Homo sapiens: one gene and its partner. The protein of the gene in region 2 interacts with the protein of the main gene of each other region in a pairwise test. Each region holds a gene or a part of one and is shown on either strand. Other genes may lie near its edges. The genes, in order: HEYL and LAPTM5.

Region 1 (4,240 bases), 8.9 Mb from region 2:
GCTGTCTCATAAATATGTTGCCCCCCAACTGAATGGTGACCGCTTTGACAGCAACGTTTATTGGAAGTTACTTTGTGCCAAAGCAGGGAGCTATGTAACTTTATGTATGTTACTTCATCAAACCTTATCCTGCGAGGCAGGAGTGCTAATGTATTCCCATTTTGAACGCGAGAAAACTGAGGTTCAGAAAGGGGTAAAAGTCACTGGCCAAAGTTAATGGTGGTAAAATTCAAACTCAGGTCTATCTGACTCCAAGACCACCACCTTATATTGTGCAGGAACAGGACCCTGATCCAGTGTCTGACATGTGGCAGGTGCTCATTAGATGTTTGCAGAGGGAGAGGAGAGGCTGTACTCTCAGTTTGGACTCATCCTGCGTCATGGGGCCAGGTTGAGATGAGAGCTCTGTGGGTGAGTTTCACAGATGTGGCAGGACTGCCACCAGGCAGATGCCACAGTGATGGTGGAACACACCCTGCTCTTTACTCTCACGTTTCTGAGTGTGGGGGTTTTGCGCCCTGCCCCTGACCCCGAGAGGCTGGCTGCCTCCGTCCTGCGGCCTTTGTCAGTGTTTATCTGCTTTCTTTGTACATGAAGCTCTTCTTCCCTGAGAGTTCCCTGAGGGCAGAGGCTGAGCAGGATACATCTGGGCCCCCTATGCCCAGCCCAGGGTCTGGGCCACAGCAGGCATCGTTCAGTGCTCCCTGAATTGAAGCATTGATGTCTGCTGGGGGAAGGGCCCTTTGGTGAGTGCTACAAAGGGGCATCTATAAGTCAGCCTCTGCCAGATGTCCAGCTGCTTTCTCTCCTCAGAGGGGTCTGCTCCTCTAAGAACAGTGTCTAAAAATGGGCTCTGTATATATAGGAAATGCTGTATGTATAGGAAAAAACTGCCCACTGATCCTTTATGCCTCATGTAAGCAGTTGCCCAGATGCTACTATCTTCAAGAAGCCCTCCTTGCCATCTTTGATTAAGAGTGACCTCTCTTTGCTTAAGTGCCCTCACAGCCCACAGTCTGTCTCCTTTCCATCCTGTCCATGGTGTTTTTATGACCTGGCAGGTCACTGACTGGGCTGCAAACTTGTGGAGGACAGAAGCCAGCTCTGATCAACCTAGTTCTCTGGCATCAATTTTGTGCCTCTGATCTATGAAGACCCAATGCCATTGAATTTGAGACCCCGCTCCACCACCACCACGTGGTGCTGTGCCCTTTCCTGGCCCTTAACAGGCACAGGCTAAGATAACTGCTTTTCTAAATAGCAGTTTCTGCTAAACAATTAAGAAAGGCTAATACGTTGCATAGCGAGTTGTGTTATACTCCCTAAAAACAAATGTACAGGCTGCAAGAGGAATATCTATTATGGCATTTTCCTGGGATTTGAGACTGAGGCAGGATCCTTGGATCTCAGAAAACTGGAGAGCACTAAAATTACAAAATGTCCTCAAAAACATCCCTAAGAATTAACTGGGCCTGGCTCACTGGCTTATGTCTGTAATCCCAACACTTTGGGAGGCCAAGGCAGGAGGATCACTTAAGCCCAGGAGATCAAGGTTGCCATGAGCTATGATCATGCCACTGCACTCCAGCATGGGCAACAGAGTGAGACCATGTCAAAAAGAAAGAAAGAAAGAATTAACTGAATTCCCCTCCAATTCTGTTCTAGAGAGTCAAGTCTAGATGAGCCAAGAGAGATGAAGTATATCCCTTTCTTTTCCACTGCTGTCTTTGTTTTACTGATGGGGAAACTGATGACAGACTCTGTCAGGGAAACCAATGGCCCAAGACCACATAGTGAGTTGGTGGCAGATTTGGGGCTGGGACCCAGGTCTGCAGACTCCCAGTCAGCCCTGCAGCTCTTTCAGGGTGCTGGGAATCACATGGTGTGTACCTAGGCATGTGCTGTGCTAAGCCCTTGACATACTTTGCCTCATTTGGTTTTCCCAATATTTCCATGAAGTTGGTTCTATTATTCATGCTCATTTAACAGATAAGGAAACTGAAGCTTAGACAGTTTACAGAACTGCGAGGTAGCAGAACTATACAAGCGCAGTTTGTTCGACAGGTTTGAAGCAGGTCAGACTATCTACCAGGAGCTGAAAGACACTGGCAGTATGGGGGCACGATAGGAGGAACATTGGAATTAGAGTCTAGGCCCTTGCAAGTCGCTTATTATTTTCTTCAATACTAAGTCCCTAAATCCAAACTCCAATTTGCTCAAAGGAGGACAAATTTTCTTCTTCCTGAAATAATTTGTGGACTACATGAAAACTGCATCCAAACTAGGGTAAAATTGGGAAAGGATGGGGTTACTCTGCATCGTCAGCAGATTCCAGACAGGGGCCAGAGTACCATCAGTCTATGAGAGTTTTCTAAGATCTCCAGGGAAAACCTGCCAATGGCCTCCCCTAGGCCACTTCAACAGATAGATGATAACCCACTAGCCACCTGATCCCCCGAGCTGAACTCTCCCTCCCTGCCAGCATCCCCAGCCCTGCACGACCGAGAGCGCGCAGGATCCAGGCACTCGTGCGTGTAACGGCACGGCCCGCACACGCCCCCTACGCCGACACCTGTGGCCCCCGCGCTCACCTGCCTCTGCCCAGGCGGTGCTGGAGGGCTGGCCCGCCTGCTCGGCGAGCCCGTCGGGCCGACCCCCACCCCGCTCGCCCTCCGCCTGCTCGGTCCCCGCATCCCGGCCCTTACCTCAGCTGGCCCTCTTGGCCCACGTCGATGGGTCCGTCGGACTCCCCGTCGGAGCCGCTCGGCTCCTTGGGTCGCTTCATGGCGAACGCAGGCTGCCTGGTCTCAGCCCCGCGGCTAAGGCTCCCAGTCGGGAAGTCAGGCCCCGCCCCGGCCCCGCCCCGGCCCCGCCTCGGGGGCGCCGCCACCGCCCTTTCCCAGGGCCCTTTCCTGCGCCGCAGCTCCGGGCGCCCAGGCGCCCCCTCGCCCCCGCGGTGACGCGCCGCCGAGCCGTGGGAAGGCCCTAGGCGGTCGCCGCCTTCATCGACGGCTGGGAGGTCCGGCTCTGCTCCGCTGTCTCGGCTGCCGCGCGCTGGGTGGCCTTGGGCAGGTGCCCTGGGAGGCCCCGCGGGGAAGCCAGGAGTCCCCGTCTGTCCCTGGGTCGCCTGGGCGCTGCTGGCCTGTAGAGGCGCCGCTTCGATGCCCGGGATTCCGCAAGGGTCAACCCTGCGCGCTCCTGCCTCCTGGTGTTCTGGAGGCAGCAGACACATCAAGTTTGTCGAAGTTAGTCGTGGTGGTTGTGGCCTGATCCTCAGCAAGAATTCCCCAGCAGCAACTCCATAGGGGCCCAAAGCAAGTGGAATAGTGTGGTGGGGGCAAGGGGAAGACACTTACACTTCTGAGAGGTGGCAGTCACCCCCAAAAGGGACGGCTGAAGTTGTGGCCACCGCATCTGAGAAAGCTGGGCTCTGGCCGAGGTCCCTAAAGGCCTGGCGTGGTGGCAGTGGTGGGTTGTCCCTGGGAATCAGTTCCCAGTTCACCAGAGGTCGAGTTGTCCTGGGCGGCCAGGAGGCCAGGAAAGGGCTCCTTCTAGACGCTATGGCAGGGCCTCAAAGTGGGAGAAGGAGAGGAAAAGGGAAGATACCTTCCAGCCTCTCTTCCTGGGGCCTCTGCTTCTGGCAACCCATCAAACTGTTCACTCAGGGAGGGCTCTAGCTGCCCTGTCCTTAGGGGGACTTGTGGGAAGTTCTCAGATTCACCGGTCATCCTCAGGCGCCCAGTACCTCAGAGAAGCTCCTAAGGCTCCAAAGGAAGCTGCATGAGAGCATCCTGGAGCTGGACTTCTTGGGCAGGGAAGAGGAGATAGAGGAGGTCTTGGTGTGCTGGGTTAGATATGAGAGGTCTTTTCCTTTTTACCCGCCACCAGGTCAGGACCTGAGGGAAGCCACCCCTTCAAGTGGGAGAATCGGGTTGGTCATCTGAGAATAACTGTGCTTCCATCCCCACAGCAAGGCCTGCTTGCTGGGGGACACTTGATTACTTGATGGGAAAGAATGTTCCTGTGCCCCCGTCCACACACATCCACAGACACAACCATTTGGCCAGGTATGCAAACACATACACACGGACAGACTTACAAATATATACTGGTAGGCGCAACTGTCGTGAGCAATCAGTACCAGGAAGCCCTGGTGGTCGCCCCAGCCACAACTATGGACTCTCATTCCAAATGCCCTCAGCACTCACATCACTTCTGTGGGCACATGCCAGTCAGTGGA
Region 2 (3,808 bases):
CTGCTTTTAGAAGCTGGGGTTCACACCCCTGAGGTGAGGAGAACAACTCAGTTCTGACACTGAGGAGGGGCTACAACTCCCACCCTGCCCCCACCGGCCTCCTCACCCCTCCGTGAAGCGCACAGAGCTGCAGTGGCAGAGAACGTGGCCTCTCTGTCCAGCCCAGGGGCACTGGACATAAAGGTGGCAAGTTCTAACAGATTCTCACCCAGGGTTTTCCCCACCTGGCAGTTTGGACCCATTTTTCAACCCCAAACAGATGAACTTTCAACAGAGGAGTGGGGCCAGGCACTATGGCCCACGCCTATAATCCCAGCACTTTGGGAGGCTGAGGCTGGTGGATCACTTGAGGTCAGGAGTTCAAGACCAGCCTGGCCAACATGGTGAAACCCCATCTCTCCTAACGATACAAAACTTAGCCGGGCATGATGGCACACACCTGTGATTCCAGCTACTTGGGAGGCTGAGGCACAAGAATCACTTGAACCCGGGAGGCAGAGGTTGCAGTGAGCCAGGATCACGCCACTGCACTCCAGCCTGGGTGATAGAGCAAGACTCAGTCTCAAAAAAAAGGGGCGGGGGGCCTTGTGTTCTTCTTCCACAGCCCACTTCAGGCACTCACCTGCTAGCCCTCCACCCGGCTTCGCTAGGGTCTCCTCCAAATGATCACTTTTGAGGCAGGGACCACTGGCCCCATTTACAGATGAGGAAGGCAAGGCTCAGATAACAAAGGTGCCCGCCTGCTCAAGTCACACTGCTGGTAAGTAATGGAGATGGGCCTGTGTTCCTTTCAATCACAAATCACTGCCCCCAAAGTGGAGCAGAGAAAAGAGCCCCAGGAGTTCTAAGGAGGACAAATCAGGAGAGCTTCCTGGAGGAGGAAGCTTCCCGTAAACTGGACCATAAAGAAGAAATGAATGGTGGGAGGCTGGATGAGGGCAGGGCCTCCCAGACAGACACACCACCCCAGCCATGGGGCAGGGAAGGAACTCATTTGCCCACTTTCTGGATCATTCCACACACCTGTGTGCCAGCAGGGGGACCTGAAGCAAGCTCCTGCCCCATCTCTCCATGTGTCCTGGAGCAAGTAAGGGGCCCTGCTGGACCTGTTTTCCCATCTGCAAAATGAGCTGATAGGCCGAAGAGAGATCCATCTTCTTAGCTCTGAAGCTTGTAAAAGCAAAGGACTCGGGCAGGTCCCACCCCTGGGGACCTCTCCACCCTCCTCCCCGACACACCTCGTGGCCACCCCTCCTAACCCAGCTTGACAAACCTGCTAGGTCTCTGAAGCACTGCAGGGTCCTTCCCCTCCAAGCCTGTGTCATGCTACTCCCCCCGCCCAGCGTGACCTCTTTTCCAAGGTGCCCAAGCAAAGCCCTACTCATCCTTAAGACTCAGACCTCCTCCAAGAAGCTATTCCAGAATCCCAACCTCCAGCCCTACATCTGTGCCCCCATCATAGCCAGCAATGTCATCCATTGTCCTCGTCGGTTTTTCCTTGGCAGACTGGCCCCTCAAGGGCAGAGGCCGTGAATGAGTCAGGGCTGTATCCCGGCCTGGGGCTGGGCACATGGGTGAACTTACCTGCACGAGGTCAGGGCAATAGAGACTCCTTCTTCAAATACTATGATTTGAATGCTTTACCTTTTTTTTTTTTAAAGAGTCTCACTCTGTCAGGCTAGAGCGCAGTGGCGCGATCTCGGCTCACTGCAACCTCCACCTCCCAGGTTCAAGCAATTCTCCTGCCTCAGCCTCCCGCGTAGCTTGGACTACAGGCTCCCGCCATCATGCCCAGCTAATTTTTTGTATTTTTAGTAAAGACAGGGTTTTGTCCTGACCTCAAGTGATCCACCCGCCTCAACCTCCCAAAATGCTGGGATTACAGGCATGAGCCACCGCACCTGGCCGTACTTTTTTTTTTTTCCAATTTAAAAGTAGTATACTTGAGCCACAAAGTAAAGTACCATTGGATTATAACCCAAAGCATACAGTAAAGATCCCTGGGTCCCTGTAATATAAATAAATCATTTATTTATATAATAAACTGGGAGTACAGACAAATCTCCTTGAGAAATTCCAAGTAATTTATGTAGCTACTCTGCCCTCAAGGAGGTGGGGCGGAACTCCCCATTCATCAAACTTGAGTTGCTTGGAGCAGCATAGTGACTTCCTTCTAAAACATACAGCATGGAAAGGAGAAAAAAAGAGTAACTTTACAAAGGAGTAACCTCAGCCGGGGGCTCAAAGTCACCAGCAACAGTGGTAAGTCAAGTTGGCAGAACCTTTTCTTAGTACGATGTTCTGAGACTGGCACATCATCTCTGTGGTCTTCCTCCCAAAAGCACATTCCCAGACTAATCATGAGAAAACCACCAGAGACCCCAGTTGAAGAACATTTGACAAAATGCCTGACAAATACTCCTCGAACTGTCAAGATTATCAAAAACAAGAAAAATCTGAGAAACCATCATACCAAGAGGAACCTAAGGAAGTGTGAAGACTAAATGTAACGCGGCATCCTGGATGCAATCTTGGAACAGAAAAAGGATGTAAGAGGAAAGCTGGGGAAATAGGGGTGAAGCACTGACTTTAATAACAGCCCACGAATATTCATTCACCCATTGCAACAAACGCACCACACTAACGTTGAGACGTTAGCAATAGAGGAACTAGGCATGGGGGACGCAAGAACTATCTGTACTGTGTTTGCAATATTTTCGTAAATCTAAAACCGTTCTAAGTACGTGCTCATTGTACCAAATATGGAAAATACAGAAAAGTAGAAAAAATAGAGCTTTCACTATCCTAGAACCCAAATACATTTCCTCCTCGCCCAGTTTTGACGTATCCTGTTTTGACACTGTTGAAATCATAGCAGGTGTTAAGTTTTTTAACCCAGACAATGCATTTCTGACAGTGGAATTCCGGGCACTCTGGGGAAGAGGGGTCAGGAAGAAAGAGATTTCTGGGCAAAAGTGTCTTCTGGGGGTGTCCACTTTCTACCATCGACTTAGAACGTGCTTCAGGTTGACAAAAAGCCAGGACCCAAGAGACCCAATTTAAGAAATTTCTCTAGACTGGGCTCGGTGGCTCATGCCTGTAATCCCAGCGCGTTGGGAGGCCAAGGCAGGAGAATCACTTGAGGCCAAGGGTTTGAGACCAGCCTGGGCAACATAGTGGGACCCTGTCTCTACAAAAAAAAATATTTAAAATTAGCTGGCCATGGTGGCATGCGCCTGTGATCCTAGCTACTCAGGAAGCTGAGGTGGGAGGATCTCTTGAACCCAGGAGTTCAAGGCTGCAGTGAGCTGTGATGGCACCACTGCATTCCAGCCTGGGTGACAGAGCAAGACCCCATCTCTTAAAAACAAAAACAAAACAAAACAAATCAAACCACAAAAGATGGGCAAGTTACTGAACTTTGAAAAAAAGAATAGATTTTTTAAAAAAAGAAAGAAAGTTTGCTGGGTTCCCAAAGTGTGCAAGTTTGGGTGACCCAGAGAATCCTCTACACAAACCCACTGACATCCTGAGGAAGATGCCCGAGCCCAAAGCTACGGACCAGGCTTCCCTCATGTAATAACGCCCTCATGACTCAATAGAGCGTGGCACTGTCTCAGGATGGCAAGGTCTCAATTTAACCCTCCCTAGAGGGGCCAAGTCCACAAATAGCTCATGATGTGCAGAGTCGTCACCCATGGCTGGGTCCAGATGACAGCCAGCATGGGCTATTGACACATCTGGACCACAGCTTCTCTTTTTCCATCCAGATGCTCAAGGTCCTATCAGCACACCTGTTGCCAGCTAG

Evidence for each region.
Region 1: the proteins of LAPTM5 (region 2) and HEYL interact in a two-hybrid assay, tested with the Homo sapiens proteins (one large-scale study listed by BioGRID and IntAct).

Annotation. Positions count from the first base shown.
Region 1 is NC_000001.11:39,636,841-39,641,080, forward strand, and holds the start of HEYL (hairy/enhancer-of-split related with YRPW motif-like protein), read right to left. Parts: upstream 2,804-4,240; 5' UTR 2,786-2,803; coding exon 2,706-2,785; intron 1-2,705. UniProt on the Homo sapiens protein: Downstream effector of Notch signaling which may be required for cardiovascular development. Transcriptional repressor which binds preferentially to the canonical E box sequence 5'-CACGTG-3'.
Region 2 is NC_000001.11:30,751,175-30,754,982, forward strand, and holds part of LAPTM5 (lysosomal-associated transmembrane protein 5), read right to left. Parts: intron 1,187-3,808; exon of another isoform or gene 1-1,186. UniProt on the Homo sapiens protein: May have a special functional role during embryogenesis and in adult hematopoietic cells.